3 separate regions of the Homo sapiens genome follow, and regions 1 and 3 are each linked to region 2. Evidence: fine-mapped expression QTL. A gene starts in region 2. Each other region holds a variant in brackets. All regions are shown on one strand. Distances are from middle to middle.

Region 1 (8,000 bases), 38 kb after region 2:
CAGTGAAGTTTAAATTGTAATAAAATGATACAATTTAAATTTTTAGTAGCGAGTTTTGCTCATTTTGTATTTTACATTAAGAATGGCATTCAATTTTGTGTAGTCATGACATGGTCTGAAGTTGACTGTTGCTTTAAGGCAACTTTTTTTTTTAAATTTCAGAATTCTGGAATTGAAAAGGCATTTCTATTTGATGTGGTCAGTAAAATTTATATTGCAACTGATAGTACTCCGGTGGATATGCAAACCTATGAGCTCTGCTGTGATATGATAGATGTGGTTATTGACATCTCTTGTATTTATGGGTAAGTACAACATTCTTAAAGGCCACAATCAAGCCATCCTTCCTTCATAACCTTTCAGGCATTTTGCATTTACATTTACTTACTTAACTTTAACATTTTTGTCTTAAATGACTGAAATCTATAAATAAATATACCAGTTAGCATGCAATAATAACAGTTATTGAGCAAATGCCACGCATTATGCTAATCTCATTGCATGCTTCCTATTATTTATTTCAATTTTTTAGCAATAGGGTGTCCCTGTGTTGTCCAGGATAGATCACTCCTGGGCTCAAATGATCCTCTCACCTCAGCCTCTCGAGTAGCTGGGATTATAGGCATGAGCCACTGTGCCCAGGTTATCATTTAATTCTCAACTATTCGATGTGGCAGGAATTACATTTGACCCTTGAACAACACAGGGGTTGGGGTACCAACCCTTTGAACAGTCAAAAAGCCACATATATTTCCCCCCTGACAAACTTAACTATTAATACTAATAGTCTACTGTTGACTGGAAGCCTTACCAATAACATGAATGATTGATTAACACACATTTTGTATGTTATGTATTACGCACTGTATTCTTAACAATAAAGTGAGCTACAGAGAAGAAATTATAAGAAAGAATATATTTACTATTTATTAAATGGAAGTGGGTCATCATAAAGGTCTTTACCCTCATTGTCTTCACATTGAGTAGGCTGAGGAGGAGGAAGAGAAGGGGTTGATTTTGCTGTCTTAGGAGTGGCAGAAGCGGAAGAAAATCCATGTATAAGTGGACCTAGGCAGTTCAAATCTGTGTTGTTTAAGGTCAACTGTAGTGTATTCACTTTACAGATGAAAAAACTGAGGTTCAGAGTGGTTACATTTCTTACTCTTGCTCACACTATCAGTAAGGATTGGAACTGGAGTTTCAACTCAGATCTGATTCCTGATCCTCTGCTGAAAAAAATCTGTTAACATACCGTTCTTAGAAAACAGAGCTTCCTATACACTTAATATAAAATAAACAAGGAGTGGGGGAAACTGATTATGTTACCCGATGTAGAAACAATTCTACATAATTATAAATGTGCTGAACAGGTGGTGTACAGACTGACTAGGTGTGAACTAGTTGTTCATCTTATTAAGATGTTAAGGTGTTGCTATCTGTATTGTATCTGACATCCTCATCTAATCGATGAGGTAAAGCTTTTGCTCATCTTCCTCTTTACTCACTGCCTGTGACCTGCCTTACACAGCTTGACGCTCTGCCTTTCAGCTTTTGTGAGAGTCTAGTCTCCATTTTTCTCTTCCATTGCTTAAAAATCCTTTGCCCACTCAGCTCGGATTCTCTCTGTTAACTGTTAGACACACACACACACACACACACACACACACACACACACCACACACACATGGAAAGTGATACTTACAAGATTGTATTGAGGATGAAATATCATTAGGCTCATAACGTGCCTTTACCTGGTAGACTCTGGATAAATGTAGCTGCCATAATTTATTATTACTGTTATAATTAAACGCTGACATCTGGCTTTAGAAATAAACCTTATTGCCCAAGATTACTGCCCTGAAGCATTCTATTATTTTTAAACCGTTTAAATGGATGACCTTGAAATAGTCATGGAAGATGAACGCACCCTGATTACAGTGCAGATTGCCATGGTAATCAAGTACAATGAACAACACAATTAATCTGGCACATGCTTAACAATGTGCATGATCATTATTGTGCCATATGGTCATTAGCTGTAAGTGGTAAGTTGTTCATGTAAATGATGTTAATCAGAGTTACTTTTACCCAGCTAAAACAAACATGGGGAGGGAGGGGTTAGGAGGAGGTGGCCTGGCTTTGCCGTCAGATTGGTTTTTCTGTGGTGGAGTACAGTGTTCTGAGAACCCACAGGATTCAGTAAGAACCAGTCTGGGTCACAGATGGTTTGTGGGCTCTGGGGTTTCCTCAGATTGTTTGCTGGAGCAGCAACAAGCCAGTCCTGTTAACCAGCAGGAGGCAGGGTTGTGTGCAGAGCCTGGGGCCCTCTTAGGCAATGAGGAAGCAGGTGCCCTTGTAACTGGAGGCCTTGCTGCCCCTCCCCACCTGCCCAGTGGAGACCAGCAGGCCCTAGAATCAGGTGACCTGGTGCCTCAGGAATCTCTCAGCTGAGGCTGTGCCCCAGCTGGCAGCTCTGTGCTCACTCATGCACACACATGCACACGCACATATATGCACACACACATGCACACACTTTAAAATATGTTCTATCTTCATGTGTTTTCATTGCTTATAGATGAAAAACTTGAGTAGTAAAACAGTTTTTGCAGTTGCAAACCTCATCAATTTCTACTTGTAATTTTTGGTGGAGTCTGTTTTTCTAATTTGTTTAATGTTTACCTTTTTCTGATTGTGAAAGTAATACATGCTTATTGCAGAAAATACATAAAAGTCTAAAGAATAAAATTAAAGTAGCCCATAATCTCACCACCTAGAGACAGTCAGTGTTTACATTTTATATAGTTTGTTCTTATTTCCATGTGTAATTTTTAGGATAATGAGATCACATTTGTATGTGAAATTTTTCATCCTGCTTTTTTCATTTAACATTACCACCTGATAATTTTCCTGTATTATTAAATGCTGTTAATAAACAGTGTTTAATATCTATATAGTATTATATTTACTTGGAAATTTTAAATGCTATTTTCTTCATTGGGTAAAACATGTTAAATGTTTCAGTTTCTTGTTCTCAGAACATTACTTATAAGCAAGAGAGATTGAGCCTTAAAATATAGTAGTTAAAACAGTGCAATGGAAGTTAATGAATTCTGTTAAAGCATCTTTAACATTTGATGTCCAGCACTTAAAAGGTTTTTCTTTAATGTTTTGGTAGGTTATAGTGAGTTGAATCCTTTAAAAAAAACAAAAAATACGAACTTCCACAATTTACTTTTTTTTTTTTTGAGATGGAGTTTCGCTCTTGTTGCCCAGGCTGGAGTGCAATGGCATGATCTCGGCTCACTGCAACCCCCGCCTCCCGGGTTCAAGTGATTCTCCTCCCTCAGCCTCCCGAGTAGCTGGGATTACAGGCATGCACTACCACGCCTAGCTAATTTTGTATTTTTAGTAGAGACGGAGTTTCTCCATGTTGGTCAGGCTGTTCTCGAACTCCCAACCTCAGGCGATCCACCTCGGCCTCCCAAAGTGCTGGGATTATAGGCCTGAGCCACCGTGCCCACCCTCACAATTTACTTTTAAGTGGCCATGTATATGGCAGCTTAAAATACTCTCAAAACTAAAAACCTACATTTCCTAAAAATACTCTTGTGCAATTCAGGCTTTTCATTAAATCTGGCTTGATACTGTACCCCCTTGTGTATTTACAGGATTAAAGCATTAACTTTGAAATTAGCCATATCTAGGTTTGAGGTCCTGACTTTACCCCTATCGTCAGCTTTGACCAAGTTATCTTATTTTCCCCTAGCCTCAGTTTCCTTAGAAACTTAGAGGATTCTTATAGCAGACAGAGGATAATGCATTTTAAGAACTAAGAATGGTTAATATCACATAGTAAGCTTTAATAAATGCTAGTTCTCAGTGAATGTGGTAAGGTTTAACACAATTCCAATTAAGTCAAATTTCTGGTCAGTTATTCATAAATTTGGGGAGTAAAAATAAATCAGAAAATTTATGTACAGTTTTAGGTAAGGGGGAAAAGGTTTAGGGAAGTGTCCTTTGCCTGTGAGGAAAGGATTCATAACACTTTTATTACACAGGTATCTTCAGAGGGTCCAGTTTCAGTCATTAAAGCCATGATAATAAGTGTGTATTTTATGTTCTCAGCATTATGCTTAGTGCTACATATGCATTATTTCATTTAATCTTCATTAGAAAACTTTGAAATAATTA[CTG/G]TTAGTGTACATATGAGGAAATTGAGGCTCAAAGAAGTTATTCGACTTGTCCAAGCTCACATAGCTAGCAAATAAAAGAAATGAGATTCAAACCCAAGTCACTTGTGTCTGCACACCACACCTTTTCTTAAATAGACCTATATATCTTTTTTTTTTTTTTTTTTTGAGACGGAGTCCTGCTCTGTCACCCAGGCTAGAGTACAGTGGCACAATCTCGGCTCACGGCAACGTCTGCCTCCTGGGTTCAAGGGATTCTTCTGCCTCAGCCTCCCGAGTAGCTGGGACTACAGGTGTGCGCCACCACGTGGTGCCTGTCTAATTTTTGTATTTTTAGTAGAGATGGGGTTTCACCCATATTGGCCAGGCTGGTCTTGAACTCATGACCTCGTGATCTACCTGTCTCCCAAGTGCTAGGATTACAGGCGTGAGCCACTGCGCCTGGCCAAATAGACCTATATATCTTATTTAACTCTTTATTTTGAAAAAAAGTTAAAACCTACAGAAAATATACAAGGGTAGTAAAATGAACTCCTGTATAACTCTTCACTGGGATTCATCAGTTTTTACCAATTTGCCATATTTGCTGCATCTCTCTTTTTCTAATACATATTGTGTATCTATTTCTTTTCAGTGAACCATTTGAGAGTAAATTGAACCAGTTCACAGTTCAGCAAATTTAGCATGGCTACATTATTATCTAATATATAGACGATATTCAGATTTTACCAGTGGTCCCAATTCTATCTTTTATAGCAGTTTTTCCCAATTCAGGATCCAGTCTAGCACTTGGCTTTCAGGTCTCTTTAGACTCCTTGAATTTGGAACATATCTTCAGCCTTTCTTAGTCTTTCATCAGACCACGCTTTTGACAGCCTGGCTATTCTAGGTGAGAAAACAAGAAGCCCTTGGCCACGGAGGTGGGGAGAGCTAACCTCATCCTTCAACTGGCTTCTTCAGGTGCCTGGAGAGTGTCCCAGCTGCTGCAGACAGCCACTCATTGTCAGTAGGAAATGACTGTTGAGGACTGTGTATGTTTTTGTGCCTGTGTGTTTCTGAGCTCTTTTGCTGAAAGGCACTGCAAGTGTAAACAACTTATGATTATCACTTTTTGTGGCTTAAAGCCGGTCTCTTGTCACTGGCTTACAGTTTCTAGTTCTTTCTCAATGGTCACATGTTTTGGTTTCTGTCCCCATTTAGTCTCAAAGAAGATGGAGCAGGAACCCCCTATGACAAGGAATCCACAGCCATCATAAAGCTTAATAATACAACCGTGCTTTATTTAAAAGAGGTGACAAAGTTCCTGGCTCTCGTTTGCTTTGTCAGAGAGGAAAGCTTTGAAAGAAAAGGTAACTTTTTGGTGTGATTTAAAAGAAGCATTAAAAGAAGCATCAGACTGCTACTGCATGTATTGTTTGTTGAATGTGGGTGGACAACAGCATAGCCCTCGAAACTTCCAGATGCCAGTCACAGGCCCTCTTGGCTTGGAGTTCAGAGCGGGGCGGGCTCCTGCCCCCAGTGTCAGCTTCTGGGCCAGTGAACTGGCCTGCCCTCTAGTGGTGCATCTGCGATTGCAGCGAGGTGGAAGTGGAACCCCATGATCCTCCCAGGGGCCTTGGCATCTCTGCTAGGGGGAAGCTAGTTGGGGCACTGTTGCCAGGCTGTGAATGAAGTCTCTTACCAGGGAGCAGACTCCCAGCCTATACTGAGGGTGGAGGTCTCCACTTTGCTCCACACCTCTAGAAGGTCTTAGGTAACCGTGTGATCTTTTGTTCTTCCCATGTAAAGGAGGGGACAACAGGTGGTTTGACTTCTGTTCAGCCTCAAAATACTTCTTAAATCTTCAGAACACAGGGATGGCATCATGATTCCGGAAAGGGAAGACCATGAATATATTTAACTCCACCAAATTTTTTTTAGGATCAAATTCAGTTTTATTTTGAAACAAAAGCAATTAAACTAATTTCCCCCTTCTATAATATCTAAACAAAAGTTACTAACAGAAGTCCCTAGCTTACTGATATGGCTAGGGACTTTTGTTAGTAATAGGGTATGGTTTACTAATTTGTTGGGTAAAAGAAAATCTCCAACAAATAGTTACATATCCTGAATATGTTATAGTAACATATCCTGAAATAGCCTTTTTCTTCTATATTATAAGCAATATAAGCCCATTAAATTAAAAATGCTTTGAAAATTTAGGAAAGTATGTAGAATAAAACCAGGTATTTCACCATCTAGAGCTAAACCCATGTTAAATTTCTGGGATTTTCTTTCTCCCTTTCTCTCTCTTTTTTGAGACAGGATCTCGCTCTGTTACTTAGGCTGGAGTGCAGTGGCACAGTCATGGCTTTCTGCAGCTTTGACCACCCGGGCCCAAGTGATCCTCCCACCTCATCCTCCCATGTAGCTAGGACCACAGACACATGTCAACAACCTGGAATTTTTTTTTGTTTTTGGTAGAGATTGGGGTCTCACCATGTTTCCTAGGCTGGTCTCAAACTCCTCGGCTCAAGTGATCCTCCCACCTCGACATCCCAAAGTGCTGGGATTAAAGGAGTGAGCCACCACGTCTGGCCCTTCTCTCTTATTTCCTCTCCCTCCTACCCTCGCTCCTTTTCTCCCTTCCTTCATTCCTTTTTTTCCTTCCTTCCAACAAAACTGGGGCCATATTGTCTAATATAGTTTTATATTCTAATATAGTTTTATATTTAATACAAATATGAAAATATTTATATTTTATATTACATATATTTCACTTACGTATATCATGAAATTTTCCTAATTCATTGGCCATGAAAACTTAATTTACATTGTTTATTTTTATCAGAAAAGTAATAGATTCTTTTAGAAAATTTAGAAATAATATTTAGCAAAAAAACAATAATTATCGATGTTTCTCATTCAGATAACTACTCTTAACATTTCCTGTATACTTTTCCAGTCCTTTCTTGCATATGCATTTTCTAAAAGGACTATGATAGATTGTATGATGAATTCTACTTTATAACCTTCACTTAAATTATTACAGACATGTTTCCAATTCACCGTCTTTTTTTAACCACATCATTTTAATGATTGTATTAGATTCTTCTATTTTCAGACATCTATGTTGTTTCTAGATTTTAATGTTATAAATAATATCATTATGACCTCTTTTGCACTAAATATTTATGTGCATCTTTGGTTGTTTCCTAAGGAAAAATTTAAAGTGGAATTACTTAGATCAAAAGGGTAGGCCCATTTTGGGGGCTTCTAATGCATATTACCAAAATGTTCTTCAGAAAGATTTTCTGGTTTTATGCTGCGAAGAGAATATGAATACTTATTTTGCTGTGTTCTTATCAATATTGGGTATTAGTATTTTTAAAAGTTGTTAACTGAAAACTGGTATATTATGTGAATTTACATTTTCTTGCTGCTTAGTGATGTCCTGTATTTTTCCTGTGTGTACCATGACTGACCAAATTGCCTTTTGTGTCCTTTGGCCTCAGAACTGTAAATTAAATGGTGTTCATCTTTTACTCCTTATTTTCATCTTGCTAGAAACAAGAACAGATTATATAATAGATCACGGAATTTTAAAGATAGACAGGAATACACCTTGTTTCACCCTCTCATGTCACAGATGATTTTACTCAGGCCTAGAAAATATAAATGACTTTCTCTCAACATCACACCACCACTTTATGGCAGTCAGGGCTAAAGGTTGCTGGCCTCAAGTGATCCTCCCTGCTCAGCCTCCCGAAGTGCTGTGCTGTGCCTGGCCTCCTGGTGTGCCTGGTGCCTGGGTGTTTTTATTGTGCAGCT
Region 2 (8,254 bases):
GACAGATGAAGGCCTAAGACTTATGCTCTTTTTGCATGTCAGCTCATTCCTAGTTGCTCTCTTGTAGCTAACACTTCATATTTACCCACACTGTGGCATTTCCCAAGGTTTGGAGCAAGTAGAAAACTTGGCTGCTATTTCTTCCTGAAGTTTCTCTCAGAAATAGGCTAGATCTGTGTGAAGAGCCATATACTATCTTCCTCCGTTCTTCCCACCCTTCTTTTCTTCTTCTCTTCCTCCCTCCCTTCCTTCTCTCCTTCTTTTCTTTCTCCCATCTCTCTTTTTTTCCATAAGCATTTATTAAGCACCTGTCAAGTATAAGCCATGGTTACATACTTGCCATGGTTACATACCACAGCAGAAACCATGGGTAGCCCAGAGACCAATCTTCACATTCTTCAGAGCACTCTCCTGGGGAGACATCCCCAGACATAGGCTGAGCTCCAGTGCAGAGCGGCCAAGGCAGCAGCCAATTCACTGAGCAGATCCCACGCTGAGTTTCTTAAAGGCTTTCAGGGTTCTTGTAGTGTTTTTCAGTTTTTATTTAAATTCAGAAAGATTCTACACACATGATTTTTTAAATTCAAGAACTTCTATTTCTAGGATATTTTCAACATATCTCTTCTTTGAAAGCTGACAGTATTCAAATGATGTCAGCAAAAGAAAAAAAGCAATCAAGGCTTTTCCTGTTCTGTTCAACTATACATTTCTGAAATGGTAGTAAATTAGAATATCTTAAATCTGTATATGACTCTTTAGCTTGGGGTAGAATATAATTGAGGATTTGACTTCTACTGATTTTTTTGTGGGATTTTATTTTATTCTTATTCTTAAGAATGGTCCAGGTTGGGTGCGGTGGCTCATGCCTGTAATCCCAGCACTTTGGGAGGCCGAAGTGGGTGGATCACCTGAGGTCAGGAGTTCGAGACCAGCCTGGCCAACATGGTGAAACGCTGTCTCTACTAAAAATACAAAAATTAGCTGGGTGTGGTGGTGCATGCCTGTAGTCCCAGCTACTCAGGGGCTGAGGCAAGAGAATCGCTTGAACCTGGGGGGTAGGGGTTGCAGTGAGCTGAGATCATGTCACTACACTCCATCCTGGGTGATAGAGTGAGACTCCATGTTAAAAGAAAAAAACAAAAGAATGGTCCAATTCTCAAGTATCTTGGAGTGTGCCCCAATCTATTGTTTCCTTCTAAGATCTCTCTTCCTGGGGAAGTTAGAGGATCATCAGACATTTCTGTCCTTTCTAGTCCATAGGCACAGTGGGGCTGTTGGATTATGACCTGCCCTTTCCTGATCCCTTGAGTCCATGGGTCTTACACACTTGGCAACCTGCCCAGGAATGCCCTATACGTCTGAGTCTGGGTTGACCTTGGACAGTCTTCTAGATCTCCTAAATTGTTATTTGCAGTTTGAATCAGACCAGTTCAAAGGCCACTTGAGGATGGTGGGCTAGCTATAGAATAGCTGAAAGTCCTCAGCCACACTCTGGGAGGCCCTCCTCCCTGGGGTTTCCTTTGACGGAAGGGATGAAAATAGGCTAGGAAAATTACTCCTAGGAAATGAGCTTTGTAAGTACCTGAGATTTTTTTTCCGCCTCATTTAATCTTCCTAATAATCCTTAGAAGGAGTGATGTTCTATTGATAAGCAATCGGGTTTAGAAGGGCATAAGTAACTTGCCTCTGATGGGAGTATGTAGTGCCTGCTTGTGTTGGTGATGCTCCTTGCACCTCACCCCACCCAGGGACCCACTCCCTGCCCTCCCTATCCAATCTCTGTCCTGGACTAGGTTCCAGGCTCCCTTGCCTTCTGGCTACCAGATGGGTTTGGCCAATGGGAGACACAGGAGAGTGGAGGGAGGATGGATGGAGAGAAAGAGAGGTCTTTGCTCTCTCCTTGATGTGAGGCCGTTCTGGCAGCAGCAGCTTCCTCATCAGTTACAGCTCCTGTTTTGTGGCCCCTCTCCAGGACTCTAGCTCCCTTCCTCACTCCTGTAAATTTAGGGGTGGTGTTATCTTCCCACTATCGCTAATACCTGCATTGATTCCCTAAACTCTGTCCACACCCCTGTAAATTGTTCCTTCACTTGAAGGCTTCAGTTAAAGTCTTTGCACATACCGTCTGTTTCATCCTGGGAAGAACCTTAACTGATACAGTCATACCAAATTATACTGCCTGCCTCCCTTGGAAAATCTCAGGACCTTTCCCATTAGAAGCAGCCACCTTCTGGAAAGTGTCTGCATCCACCTTCTGCACTCAGAAATACTAAAAAAAATCCAGGACATGAGTCATGATTTGGTAGACTGTGAGCTCCTTCAGGGCAGGAACACTGCCCTGAGCATTCTTGGACCCTCTACTTAGCCCAGCCTCAGGCATATAGGAGGTGGTTAATAAATGTTTCCTATGGAGGTTAGCACCCTTGGGCCCTGAGAGTCTCCTGCCCTAGCTTCCTCCCTCCGCTTCTGCACCGCACCACCGGCTGAGCTGCTGGCACCTGTAGGAGCTGGATCATCATGCTGACCGGCCGGTTTTTTCTTATTGTGCTCCACAGAAGGAAGTTCATCCACGTAATTTTTTGCAGTACCCAGAAAGGGTGGGTACAGTGTGTTCCGTGGTGAAAAGCTTGTGAAGGAGGAATGCAGGTTTTAGAGTCTCACTCCACGTTGCTGCTATTCCTATTTGAGAATTGCCCCCCCACCACCGCCACTCCCCTACTCCCACAAAAGCCTTGAAATATTTTATTCATGTGGGATTACAGTCTATGCAACAATGAGACATGAGGAGGTGGCCATGAATAGCCCCCGAGTGTGTTATACACTGAGACCTTTTCCAAAGGGCTGCAGAGGAATTATTTAGTCTAAGCAGCCACGAGTCATGTGATTTCTTCAGAAACATTTACGTCTGGGTAGGCCTGCTTTTTAAATATTCTTGGTGGGAAGCACTTTGAACCATAAAGGCACACTAAAAGACAATTGCTATGGAGACTGCGCCTCCACTGTGCATTTATCTGAGTTCTCCGCCTGGGGCTCTTGAGCGTCCACAGGGTGTCCTGGGCACGCTGCTCTGGGGTGGGGGATCTGGGCGCCACAGTGTTGGGAGGCCACCCGCTTGGGACCCTAGCTCAGGACTGTAAGCAGGAGGCATCCGCCCACGGTAGACGCTCTGCGGGCGTGTGGGAGTGGGACGGCGGGGGGGACATTGAGGGTGTGCGGCGCCCCCTCCCCTGCCTGTGCGGGGACCACGTGAAGGAGAGGCGCGTGGGGGCCCCTGGCGCGCAGCCGCGGTGGGTGACGGCCGGCGTCCCGGGGGCCCCGTGTACGGGGCGTGTGTCGGTGTGAGTCTGGGAGGGTGCAGGGGCCCCGCGCCTCCCCGGTCTCCTCGTGCGTGTGCGTGTGCGTGTGCATGTGTGTCCTCGGCCCAGCGCCCCGCCGAGTGGTGCCCGCGGCCGGGCGAGCGCGCGCGCGCCCGTGCGGGGTGTGTATGTGAGTATGTGACAGTGTGTGTCAGGTGACTCGGGTCACGCAGTCTCTCTCTCTCTCCCTCCTCCGGGAGGAACTGCCGCGCTCCGGCTGACTCCTCCGCCGGCGGGCGGGGCGGGGGAGGGGGCTTCGGGCGCGCTGGGAACCGCGGGACCCGGACCTGGGCGCCGCCCGCCGGGGGACGCGCGGCCCCCGCTTCCGCCGGGCCCCGCTGAGCTCTAGACAAACCTCCGCTTCAGAAATAGGCTGCGGGCGGCCGGCTAGGAGGCTTGGCCCCCACCCCGGGACCCCCGCCGTCCCCGGGCCGGCCGGCCGGTGGGCACGATGAGCCAGGTGCTGGGGAAGCCGCAGCCGCAGGACGAGGACGACGCGGAGGAGGAGGAGGAGGAGGATGAGCTGGTGGGGCTAGCGGACTACGGAGACGGGCCCGACTCCTCCGACGCCGATCCGGACAGCGGCACAGAGGAGGGAGGTGAGCGCCCGGCCCCCGCGTCCTCGGCTCGCGCCCCTTTCCTCCCCTTGGCGCCTTCCCGCCCCCAGCCCGGCCGTGCGCGAGCCACCGACTTGGAGGGGGTCCAGGGGAGCGGGTCCAGTTGAGGGTTTGGGGTGGGGAGGGACGCCAAAAGCCCGACCTCGAGCTGCCAAATGAGGGAGCGCGGTGCTGGTGGCGGAGGGGCAACCAGGATCGGTGGAAAAGGGGAAGGAGGGAGTAAGCGTCTGGGCTGGAGGAGCGCGCGCTTCTGCCCCTTTCAGAGCCGGTGCCTCCCGCGCCCCTCACCCCAAGCTCTCCGCAGCGTCTGGCGGTTGGGGAGGGGAGGGGACCGCGGGCGCGCCCTGGGACCTCTCTCCCAGAACGGTGCTGTTGAAGCCAGGGTCAGATGTCGTGGCTAAAAAAAGGCAGCCGGCGGCGGCGTGACTGGCAGGGTCGTCGGCAGCTGCGGGTGTCAGTCTCGCCCCGCGTCGCCGCGGGAGGGGCCCACCCAGGTAGTGGCTGGGGAGACCCGCGGGGCGGCGGGGGGATGCTCGCCAAGCTGTTGTGGGAGTCTCCGAGAGGCCGCAGATTTCCCGGGATCCACGCAAACACCGTTGTCAGGACACCTTATCTGCTCTCGGTATCACCACCTGGACATGGCAGTGCCTGCCCGGGAGTGAGCGCGCGGCGGGGAATTCTTTGCTTCAATAGTGAAGCAAACTCTTTTTCCTGTTCTAGAAGCGGGTTTTAGCAATCGTTCAGCTTGTGGGGGCTTCCTGCATTTTCTTAAGGTGTAAGGAAGTTGAGAGCCTTTTAGTATTCCAGAGAGGTTAAACTTTTTTTAGTTTCCCTCAGAAGCGAGCAAAAGTTCCTTTACTGTAAGGTCACTTGGAAAGGTCAATAGAAAGCGGCTGTTAAACATGATGTTATTCTCAGTGAAACTGTATGCATCCAAGAGAAGGAACTAACTTTAATGTTTCACACTGAAGAAATTGTGTGAGAGATACAAGTACCTTTGTGACTATTGATTTTTAAAGAACTTTTATTGAGAATTCACTGAACTTATTTTAAATTCTCTATGCAAAGCTTTTCTCACTAGGGTAGTTTCATTATTCTACATCTGGCAGGCACGACTTTCAATGAATCAGAAAGGAAATAAAGTTAACTATGCCTTGCGCCTGGTAGATGAGAAAGCAGCCTCTCAAGTCACCCTTTTTCATAGCGTTTTCTCTCTTGGGATGATTTGTGCTAATTCCTCATTTGCTTAAACTGATGTGTGCACCTTTGTGCTTTCTGTCTTCTGCACTCCCGGTAATTGGTCTTACCGTTGAGCACCAGGCCACATTTTTGTAGATAAAGGCTTTCAGCCGTTTTATTGGAGTCTCTAGAGCTACCTTCCGTAATTAAATTGTTCAGTCGCCTCATTATTATTCAAATTCCATTTGTTAGCTCCTCCCAGATTCTTAGAAGACTCCGGAGAGATGCAGAATAGGGATGTATTTGCAAGGTATTTGAAATGGTGGACACAGTAGGGTGTGTGTGGGATTCTCTTTTTTAAAAAAGAAAAAAAGTGGGGGGGCGGAGGGGCCATATCCAGGAGGGAAAGCCCTGTAATTTGATACTGTCCTGAGGCCTGGAGGGTCCAGAAAAAGTACTGGACCCCTCGTTTATTCTGCAGTTCTTTAAGTGGGCACTTTTAAAATTTGATTTGGGGACTTGAAATTGAAGTGAAATTAAAGCCCTGCTTGAGGGATGGGATTCCCGGAACAAAGGGCTTCCCCAGAGCCCAGACTTGGAGGCTCCTTAGCTGTTAACGTAAAGGCAAACTTGCCTGTAACTGATTTTTGGTGACTCGCATAATAAAATCCTTCTGAATGGGCTTTTGGGATCAGCTTGGGATCTTGCTATAAAAGGATTAAATATATTTATATTGTGAGAAGAGCAACATGTTTGCTCGGCAAACGTTGCTTAAGCCTGGTCTCTGTCCACCTGGGCCTGCAGTGGATAGGTGGTCTGCTTCTCAGACTTCCTCCGTTATATTTTGGCCTCTGTTCTTTCCAGATTTCCCTGGCTTTGACTTTTGGGTTTAGGCCTTGATGCAGAATCCCTTGTCAGGACATTTGCTCTCTAGTGTCAGATAGGCTCCTCAGTCAGCAATTCCAGCGAGGACTGCTCCTGATGGCTGTCAGGCCAGCTGATATGGTCTGGGGAGTGGGGATTGGGAGGAGGAGGTTGGGAGTTGTGACTTCCCTTCCTGTGCCCTTCAAAAGGCTGATTCACGTGTTGCATTATAATCTTGTTTTATTTTTGGTAAAATTTACATTTACCTACTCTCAAACTTAAGAAATAGAATGTAGGGAAAAAAAGGAGTTATTCTGAGAAAAGATGTACTTTGAACCACTAGCAAAGCATTTCTCTAATGAACCCCCACTCCCCTTTCCCCTTCCTAATAGCTTGGTTTAGTGCCTGCACTTAGTGGAGACGTGGGACTTTTTCCACTAAGTTCAGAAATCTACCCTGGTGGGTGGGAGGCTGAGGGTGGGATGTGGGACCAACTAGTATTGCCAGTTAAGTTGCAAAGCAATTTATCAGGAGCTGTGCAAGAGAAGTGGACTAAAGGTGGATATGTAATGCAATTTTCATTTCCCTCAGTCTGTAGGACTTATAAAGGAACCTCTGGTCTTATTTTTAAACCGAGTATGCCTTGTAAATTTTACCACATTGTACTGAGTTTGAAAACATAGGGCAACTAAGGTGAGACTTAAATTGCACTTCTCTGGCTTCCACTCCATATTTTATTCATGAATAGCAAAAGTGTTCTCAGGCACATTAGTTCTGTTAGGGCAGATTTGGGCACCTCTCAACCTTCCTTTCATGGTAGTTAATTGCAGGTAAGGTGAGTCTCACCTTCAATCCCCACACTCCAGATAAAACTACCAGAGAGGAGGGAATGGTTAGGCCGTTAAAAACAATTGCACCAAAAATAATGATTATTTTTAGATTCATGGACTTTAAATCTTTTGATAAATTACTGTGCTTTAAAAACTGTAATAACAGGGAAAGCAATTACAAGATCATATTTAATCAGAAAGTAAAATTGTTTTCCCCCCAAAACCCCTCCCATTTTTTAGGAGAAACTTGGCTAACGTAAGCTGCTCACCCACAGTCCAGTGAAGTTCGGTCTTTGCCTTCATAGCAGCCTGTGCGCACCCTTAGGGTCTGAGGAAGTGACTGTGTAGGTGGTTTCTGGAGGCATGAAAGATCCAGGGTCTTCCTTCCTGAAGGATGTAGATGGGGTGAATCCAGCAATTCATATGTATTAATCATTAGTTCATTAATGTTAGCCTTTTGTGGGGAAGGGACTGGGTCTCTCTATATTGCCTAGGCTGGTCTCGGACTTGTGGGCTCAAGCAATCTTCCTGCTTCAGCCTCCCAAGTAGCTAGGATTATAGGCATGCATGACTGTGCATGGCTTTTTCCTAAAATAATTTTAAAAATATTAGGGAATTCACCTTTTCATTGTTCCTTGGAAGTAAGTAGAGATAACAGTTATACTGATACTGAAATCATGGCTCAGAGATACCAGGGGGCTTTTCTACTGCCCTATCATGAGCTAGAAATGAGCGAAGTATTTAGAAGAGGATCAAGTATATGGAAATGTAAGCCCCTTTTCTTGTAATTCTGCCTTATCCAAAAAGAGCTGGCTTGACTACAGCCCTGGACACAGCTTATCTCTTAGATTTCCTTCTGGCCCTGGAAATACAGAAGAGTTGGAACAGATGAAACTACATAATAGGTTAAAATGATGTGCCCAAAGTTAAACTTTAGGTAAATACTTGTTCGAATGCCTGTATTTAGAGAGTATCTTTCTATATCAGATGTTTTATAAACCTGTGTCAGTGATTCAGGGCATCAGAGAGTACTGACTCTCTACTTTTATTAGCGATCTCTTCCATTTTAATACTAGATAGAGGGTAGTCTAATGGAAACGGGAGGCACAAACAGCAAGTTCTGGATAAGAGCCGATGACTTTGGGTTTGAGAGATCATCTTTTGTCTTTCAAAGATAACTGAGTCTGCCCCAAGTTCACCCCCTGTGTTATTCAATCCTCCCCCAGCCCATAGTAAATGCTGGTGACAATCAATTTCACTTTTAGCACAGACACTTCGTTCCTGCTCATTTTTCTTCTTTCTTTCCTTCTTTTGAGATGGAGCCTCACTCTGTTGCCCAGGCTGGAGTGCAGTGGCATGATCTCGGCTCACTGCAACCTCCACCTTCTGGGTTCAGGTGATTCTCCTG
Region 3 (8,276 bases), 62 kb after region 2:
TAAAATATACCATCTAATTTTAGATATCCTTCACTTTTTTACTCCCAATTTCATCAAGAAACTCACAGATTTAGATTAACTTTAACAATAGAAAACAAATCAAATTTAAGAGTTTATGTCTTTATATAACAGAATAAAACTTGCCCAACCTGATTAACCCTTTCTATCCTCCCCACCTTCCCAATCCCTCCCTCCTTTCCTTTAGTAAGGTCCCTACTCCTTAAGTCTTTTGAACTCAGTCCTCTCTCGATCCCACACATTGGACAATGAAGCAGTAAGTGTGTCCTTTGAAGTTTAACCTTTCATATTTGTATGCTTTCCCTCACATTAAATGTAATTCCTTTTTTTGACAGCTTTTACATCTAAACAAACCAAAAAAAACAAAACTCCTGCAATGCCTAAAACATGTCGTGCACCTAACACACTACCCGAGAAAAAAATTGTTATGAATATCCAACTCTGGCCAGAGCCGTGGCTCACGCCTGTAACCCCAGCACTTTGGAAGGCCGAGGCGGGCGGATCGCTTGAGTCCAGGAGTTCGAGACGAGCCTGGCCAACACGGTGAAACCGTGTCTCTAACAAAAATACAAAAAATTAACCGGGCATGGTGGCACACACCTGTGGTCCCAGCCACGCTGGAGGCTGAGGTGGGAGGATCGCTTGGGCCCGGGAGGTAGAGGCTGCAGTGAGCCAAGATCGCGCCACTGCATCCCAGCCTGGGCGACAGAGCGGTGACACCGTCACACACACACACAAAATAAAAAATAAAAAAAATCCTATTCCATTTCCTTGTCACTGGCTTTCCCCCTCCTCACTTAACCCCCGCCCCTCGCAACAGCAACTGAATCTAAAAACAAAGCCTTTCCCAGACCCTGCGGGACCGCGCGCGGGCAGCCGGCTGCGGACAGCTTTGCAGCCGGAGCCCGGCGCCCCCTCCGAGCTCTCGAGGGCCCGGGGGTCCCGGACCTCGCCTACAGCGGGCAGGGCCGGGACGAGAGGACGAGGACGCCGCTCGCTCCTGCACCTCCCCAAGCCGGCTTCGCCGGGCGGGCGGCGGCTGGGTAGTGACCGACCGCCACGAAGCTACTGCCACGTCAGGGCAACTTCACAAATCCCGGACGAGGGCGGGTGACGCAAGCCGGGCGGCCGCGGCAGGGCTGGGCCTGCGACTACCCGAGGAGGCTGACCTCCAGCCCGGGCGCCCGGTTCAGCGCCGCCCCGGCCGGCGCCGGTGCCTGCCAGGCACTCAGGGAGGCGGGGGCGCAGTGGAGGAGGCGGCGCCATCGCGAAGCGAGCGCCTCGCCCGCACTCAGCCTTGCCACCCCGCCCGCAGTCCAGGCTGGACTGGGCGGCATTTGCCGAGGCTCCTCGGCCAGGCCCCGTCCGCCCGAGCCGCGCTGAGACCCGGGCAGCGGCCGCGTGGAGAGGAGGTGGCAGCGGCCCGGGAGGCCGGAGCCAAGCCAGCGACCCACCATGGAGACCCGCTACAACCTGAAGAGTCCGGGTGAGCAGGGCTGGGGCCCCTGGGCGAGGAGGGCGGAGTGACCCTGGACCCCGGGGTGGTCGCCGCCTCGGTCCCCTCGCGTCTGGCGCCACTCGCGGCTCAGCTCCTGGTTTCGCGCTCTACGCGAGACCGCCGCCTGCCCGGGAAGTACAGGCCGCAGGGCGAGGTGGCCGGGTGGACGTCCGCTGCCAATCCCCCGGCCGGCCAGCGCGCCCCGCAGCACCCAGCCTCTCCCTTTTCTCATCTTCGCCTGGTCCCGTAGAGCTGGGTCAGAAACTCATCCCTGAGAACAGGTGTAAAGGTGATGTCGGTGGGCGATAGTCATCAACCCCCTCGCTGTACCTGGTCGCTATTCCCTCCCTGTCGCTGCCACCGGACTTCTATTTACTTCTATTTACTGCCGGCTGATTTACTCACATTTGAGGAGTTGGTCGTTTAAATATCCTATTTGCAGCACTTGGGCGAATACAATTACAGACATAAAGGAAATGTTCTGTAACTAAACCAGTTAACTATAGAGCTAAAGCAAAACAAAACAACAACAAAAAAACACCTCGTTGAGCCCTGTTCTTGAGAGCTAACCTTGATTTTTGCCAGACTGGCTAATATGAAATGTATCTGTATTCAGTCGTAGCGATTCCTTTCCTGCATTTAATGATCCTGCTTTATATTTACACAAGCAGTCCCAGCAATCCTAGCCTCTAATTACTTTCTGGTGCATTATAAAGATAAGCAACTAGCTTTCTCAGCTTAATAAAACAGGCTTGAAATGAATCATTGGATCCTCTAAATGGTATTTTTTCTATCTGTACCTTGATACATTTTGTCAGGGGGAAGAAACTCCACAGTTAACTCTGCATGATAAACTCTAGGATATTAGTGATGATTTCACCAACTTTTGCTGTTGCTTAAAATTTCCTTCCAAAAAAAGCTGTTTCTCAGTAGGAATTAGCAAGACTAGCATCCTTGTGGAAAGAGTTGACACTGTGAATCTTTGGGTTTTTTGTAAGGTTTCAGAATATGCAAAAACCCCAGAAAAGCCTGAGGATATTGATTGGAGGGAGCTTTGTTAGCCTGAGTGCTGTCAGGCTAAGAAATGTCCTTAGGTGACCAAGTGTGTAGAACTGGTCATAATATTTTAGGAGCCACTGACTCCTTAAAAAAATCTGATGAAGACCTGGCACGGTGGCACACGCTTGTAATCCCAGCACTTTGGGAGGCTTGAGCCCAGGAGGTGGAGAGCAGCCTGGCCAACATGGTGAAACCCCGTCTCTACTAAAAACACAAAAATCAGCCGGGCATGGTGGTGGCGCACTCCTGTAGTTCCAGCCACTCGGGAGGCTGAGGCAGGAGGATGGCTTGACCCGGGGAGGAGGTTGCAGTGAGCCGAGATCGCGCCACTGCACTCCAGTGTGGGCGACAGAGCGAGACTCCATCTCAAAAAAAAAAAAAAAAAAAAAAAAAAAAAAGAGAATCCCGGGGTGGGGAGGGAGGAAGAAAAGACCAAAGAGAAAGAGGGAAAGAAAAGCTTAATTTTTAAGCTAGATGGTAAAATGATTGAATTATTTACATTGTGGTATATTTAACTGGAGCTGTTTGGGTAAAAATGTATGGTGGCTCCCTGGTCACACGGTTCCTTAGGACAGCAGAGGTGCTTAGTGAAAGGTCCAGAGGATAATGCACATGTGAGTAGTAGTGCAGTTTAGAATGGAGAACTGGTGGAACCCAAGAGATTGTTGTCAGAAAACATCGCTCAATTTCGATAGGTTAGACTTAATACTATGATGATAAGCTTTTAAAAATCTCCAGAATTTTGTATATTTCCAAAGTATGTGAACTATTGTCAGCTGGTTGAGCTTTGGTTGACATGCTTCTAGCTGTGTCATAAATTGCTTCCTTTTTCTGGTTTCATTTCCTCAAAGATAGTGTTGCTGCTCTAAAAAAAAA[A/C]ACACAATGCTTCTTAAAAATCTATTTTTGTTAGTGTGTGAATTATTTGGAGTTCATGGAGAAGTTGAATTAGGTAAGATATGGGACTTACTGAAAATGCTGGGAGGCATTGTGAAAATACTTCCTTCCTTTGCTTTATTCTCAGTCCTGTGGTATTTTTAGAGTAATGCCTGTGTGAAGGGGAGCAACTGAAAACTCCAATTTCCTGTGTATGGCAGGGTGCACACACACACACACGTAAAATACCAACATACCAGACAAACAAAAAACAACCACACAATGTGAGGGATATAATCTTTTACTCTTTATCTGATGTGGGATTGTCTTTGATGTATGAGTGGAAAGATTAAGTGAAGACAATACAGATAGCTGGTTAAGGGCCAGTGTACTAGCATGTGGATATAGTAAATTTTTTCATTTCATAGGTGGGGAAACTTTTTGCTTTATGGTTTTTTTTTGGAATGGACTTGTGATTATGGATAGAGCTGTTGTGTAGGATCACCTCACAGTAGTTGTCTGTGGTAGTTGTCAGTAGTTGTCTATGGATCTGCTACTGTAGTAGCAGTAGTTGTCTATGGATCATGCTACTTGTCTATAATCTGTCAATAGTTGTCTATGGATCAAGCTACTTGACCCGTGTTTGGGTCTGCTCTGGCCAAGGAAGTAGGGTCTTATAGTACAAAGTGAAGAAATGTGTATAAAGCACCTCCTTTGGCAGCTTCTTCATCAGGGGGCCATTGACATGTGCAGCAGGTGGTGGGAGTATAAGAGACTGGTGCAAAAGTACCCACTGCCTCCACCAGAAGTCTAAGAGTTACCTATCCATGCCATTGGTGTCAACTGCACCTTCCCACTAATCCACTCAAGGTTTCATGTCCAACTCAGGCCCTTCTCGTAAGCTATAGATACACAGAACTTATGGTGACTCAACATCTTCATTTCCCATAGAGTGAAAAAAATCTCTGTAAGTATAAAGACAAAACTCATCAGTTTTCTTCTCCTCCCCTAAACTTGCAGTTTACCCTAGTATTTCATATCTCAGGGATAGACAGCACTCAGGCACCTATGGGAGTCATTTTTTATTTCTTGGTCGCTTCCTTGCTCCATCCCTGCCCTGAAACACACAACTCAATACACACACAGAAACACATATATCTAATCAGTCACTGTTGTCACCAGATCAATCAAAACAAAAACTGATTACCCCCAAATTGAAAAATTTTCAGTAGCTTTCTGATAGCTGTCAATAAAGTTCAAAGTAAACTGCTTAGCTTGGCCTACAGGGCTGCTCATGATTGACCCTGCCCTTCCTCACCAGCCTCACTGTCCACCACTCTTATGCTCTTCCTCATTTTCTTTTTTTTTGAGGCAGGGTCTCCCAGCCTGGAGTGCAGTGGTGCCATCACAGCTCACTACAGCCTCAACCTCCTGGGCTGAAGTGATTCTTCCACCTCTGCCTCCCGAGTAGCAGGGACCACAGGTGTGTGCCACCACACCCAGCTAATTTGTGTATTTTTTGTAGAGACGAGGGTTTCACCATGTTGCCCAGGCTGGTCTCAAACGCCTGAGCTCAAGTGTTCCCTCCACCTTGGCTTCCCAAAGTGGTGAGATTACAGGTGAGAGCCACTGCACCAGGCCTGCGTTTTTACCTATCCATTTTGCCTGAATGACTCTCTAGCTGGAGTAGCTTTTCTCACTTAGGTGCTTTGGTTCCTGTTGGAACCTCTGCTTAGAATGCCTTCCTTTAAATCCATCTGAAATTCCTATAGTTCTTCAAGCTTTAAGGTTCAGCCTTGTCTAGCTCCCCTAGGCAGACTAAAGTAGTTCCTATATATACTTGTACATATATACTTGGTCAATATTACCACTTGGTTGTAATTATTTTCATGTCTTTCTCTACTGACTGTTACGGAAGACAAGAAGCAGGTCTTGGTCATTGTTTTATCTCCAACACTCAGACATTCTTTAAATGTTTGTTGAACTGATACATTTGCAGGGTCCTCCTGGGCAGAAACATCACTCTGTAGGCATTTGCTTAAGTACCTTCATTATGGGAGCAGGAAGAGGCAGTTAGGGAGCATGCCTTCCTTAATATACCTGTCTCCTGCATTTCACTCATGCTTTGGGAATTGATAATATCAAGATAATTGCTTTTGAAGAGGAATCCATATATGGGAAGCAGTGGCCTGTAGAAGATCCCTTTATTTTTAGCTGTATACAAACCCCAATGTGAGGCTAGTGAGCTAGCCAAGGTGTGTGAAGAATGCTAATGCCTAGGCCCACAGCACCTAGAGCATGGCTCCAGAGTGTCCATGTGGCCTCTATAAGAAAGAAGAACAAGAGCAGGCATCCAGGTGCCACCCCTTCCTTTCCTGGCACATCTTATCTCACCACAGTGAAAGGATTCCATGGAAAAACCTTTCCAAGAGATAGGAGAGGAGCTGGAATAAAAGTTTCCTCTCTAGCCATGTAGAAGCAAGAGATGGAGTATCAGGAGGGGCAGACTATGCTGTAGCCCGGTTGCCAGGCAGCACTGTGAACCATGACTGTTTCCTAACAGTGGTATTTCTCCTCAGGAGCCAGGGAGCCATATCATAAGGCCAGCGAAATCTGCTGAGGCATGGTTTTGAGTTAGGAAGAATCATTGAGAAGGCCTTATATACCAGTCCATTTTCAACCTTAATGACTCAGGGACTGGGCAGGAAGGAGGGGTGAAAAGGAAAGGAGAATTTTGTGGAGAAATTATTGACTCTTATTTGACAGATGTAAACATCAGATCAAGTGACTTGTTCAAGGACTTAGAGCTACAAAATGTCAGAGTCAGAATTTTAATGCAGCTCTAAATCGAGTCCCTGTTTCTTTTCACTGAAGCATTCATAATATATGTTATTTTTGCAAAAAAAATAGCTTATGGAAACAAGAGACTAATCTCACCTTTTGGCTACATGACCTTAGCTCTTACATGGTATGTGCCTGAGTGACTTATGAACTAATTAGCTATTTAGCTGTTGAACCAATGATTGTTCCTTTACAGGATTGGTACAGATACATTCTTATAACAATTCTGACCCTTTATACATCTCTCATAATATCCAGGTACAAGTTTTGAGTGTTTATTTTCTTCTCTCCTGTTGAACTGAACTGAGTAGGGAAGAGGCAGAGAAAATGCGATAAGGGTATAGAATGACATAAAATCTGACTTCAGCTTAATCATTATTGAGTTCAGCCAGTTGACGAGGAATGAAGGAAAAACAATCTTTTTGGCATCTCCAAACTAATTAACTTCATAACAGCTTCCATAATTGCATTTCTATCTAATAATATTAACTTAAAGGAATGATATGTTTATGTGGCTTTAAAGCAGGGTTTTCCATCTTTGTTCTATGGGTCCCTTCAGGAGTGAAATGGAAGGACAGGGAGTAGATAGTCCGCAGGCCCTTCCACTGGCCTCTGCAACCAAAGCGGCTCTGTGGTTTTTGTTTCACCTGTTGGGGTTCTCATTAAGCTTTCTTTGAATGAAGGATTTTGTTTTATTAAATAAGTTTAATTGTTTTATTAAGTAAGTTTAAAAACCATTGCCTTTAATCGGATTCTGAGAGCTATGTTGAGAGAAGATAGTAAAATTTAATTCAACTAATATTTGAGTACTTACCATGTGCTAAGCCCTGAGGAGACTGTACTGCTACAGCTACACTGTCATTACTATTGCTTAGCAGGAAAAACAGATATTAAACAAGTAATTACAAGTGAGATGAACTTCATAAGAGGAAAAATACAGTGTTATGATGGCATAGAGCAAGGAGACTCAACCTGGTCTCTAGGGCAGTGGTTTCTAAACCTAACCAGAGTAATTCAGAGAGCATTCCTAGTCTCTACCCCTCCCTAGGACGCCTCAGAGATTTTGATCTGCCCAGATTGAAATCTCCAAGCACTGTAGGGGGTGGGGGGCAGGGGGCAACCAGGGAAGGTGTCATAGAGACATTCCTGAGAAGTTACTTAAAGGTCTAGGGTAGCCAGACTAGACGGTGAGGCGGAGGATGGGGCCGGAGCAGCCTGGGCCCTGAGGAAAGCTGTATAGAAAGGCTGAGAGTGGAGGGGAGGTAAAGTGTGTTCAGGGAATTGACCAAAGCCCAGTCTCTAGACTTGGAGGGAGAGGGTGTCTCAGTATGTACATATTTCTAATATAGCATTTATCATTCTGTTTTGTATTGACTGCACCTCCCAGCCGTCAGTCTTTAGTGACCAAAGCCATATTTTGTTTACGCATGAAGCTGTAGCATCTAGTACCTAGTAGGAACTCAAGAAATAGTTGATGATCCAGTGAACAAAGTCTCTGCATATAGGGGCTTAGTTCAGAGTAAGAAATGGAAAAGAATATTAATAATTGTGAAGTAGGATAGTAACAACTTTTTTTTGGCCAGGCATGCTGATTCCCGCCTGTAATCTCAGCACTTTGGAAGGCTGAGGTAGGAGGATTGCCCGAGACCAGCCTGGGCAAGACAGGGGGACCCCAGCTCTACAAAAAATTTAAAAATTAGCCAGGCATGGTGGTGCATGCCTGTGGTCTCAGCTATTGGGGAGGCCAAGGTGGGAGGACTGCATGAGCTTGGGAGGTTGAGGCTTCAGTGAGTGAGCTGTGTTCGTACCACTGCCCTCCGGCCTGGAGGGCTTTTTTTTTTTTTTTTAGACGTAGTTTCGCTCTTGTTGCCCAGGCTGGAGTGCAACAGCACGATCTCAGCTCACTGCAGCCTCCACTTCCTGGGTTTAAGCGATTCTCCTGCCTCAGCCTCCCTAGTAGCTGGGATTATAGGCATGTGCCATCACA

What was found. PIP is the estimated chance that this variant, and not a neighbour inherited with it, causes the effect.
Region 1: its variant is fine-mapped to the expression of RRAGD in whole blood (TOPMed, PIP 0.99).
Region 3: its variant is fine-mapped to the expression of RRAGD in whole blood (INTERVAL, PIP 0.94).

Annotation. Positions count from the first base shown.
Region 1 is chr6:89,369,976-89,377,975 of GRCh38, reverse strand. RRAGD (Ras related GTP binding D) reads left to right here. Exons shown (of 7, transcript NM_021244.5): 5 at 163-305; 6 at 5,391-5,539. Among named protein-coding and RNA genes, the nearest start is that of UBE2J1, 21 kb to the right of the region's middle. RefSeq lists enhancers at 1,878-2,378, 2,379-2,879, 4,973-5,092, 5,463-5,682, 5,592-5,886. The variant CTG/G (reference allele first, on the strand shown) is at 4,192.
Region 2 is chr6:89,407,547-89,415,800 of GRCh38, reverse strand. RRAGD (Ras related GTP binding D) reads left to right here and starts at 3,528. Exons shown (of 7, transcript NM_021244.5): 1 at 3,528-3,955. The coding sequence starts at 3,808. RefSeq lists silencers at 3,112-4,301, 4,332-4,441, 4,472-4,571.
Region 3 is chr6:89,345,767-89,354,042 of GRCh38, reverse strand. It overlaps UBE2J1 (ubiquitin conjugating enzyme E2 J1), which reads left to right and starts at 1,321. Exons shown (of 8, transcript NM_016021.3): 1 at 1,321-1,504. The coding sequence starts at 1,474. RefSeq lists silencers at 860-959, 970-1,679, 1,710-1,769 and an enhancer at 1,066-2,015. The variant A/C (reference allele first, on the strand shown) is at 3,452.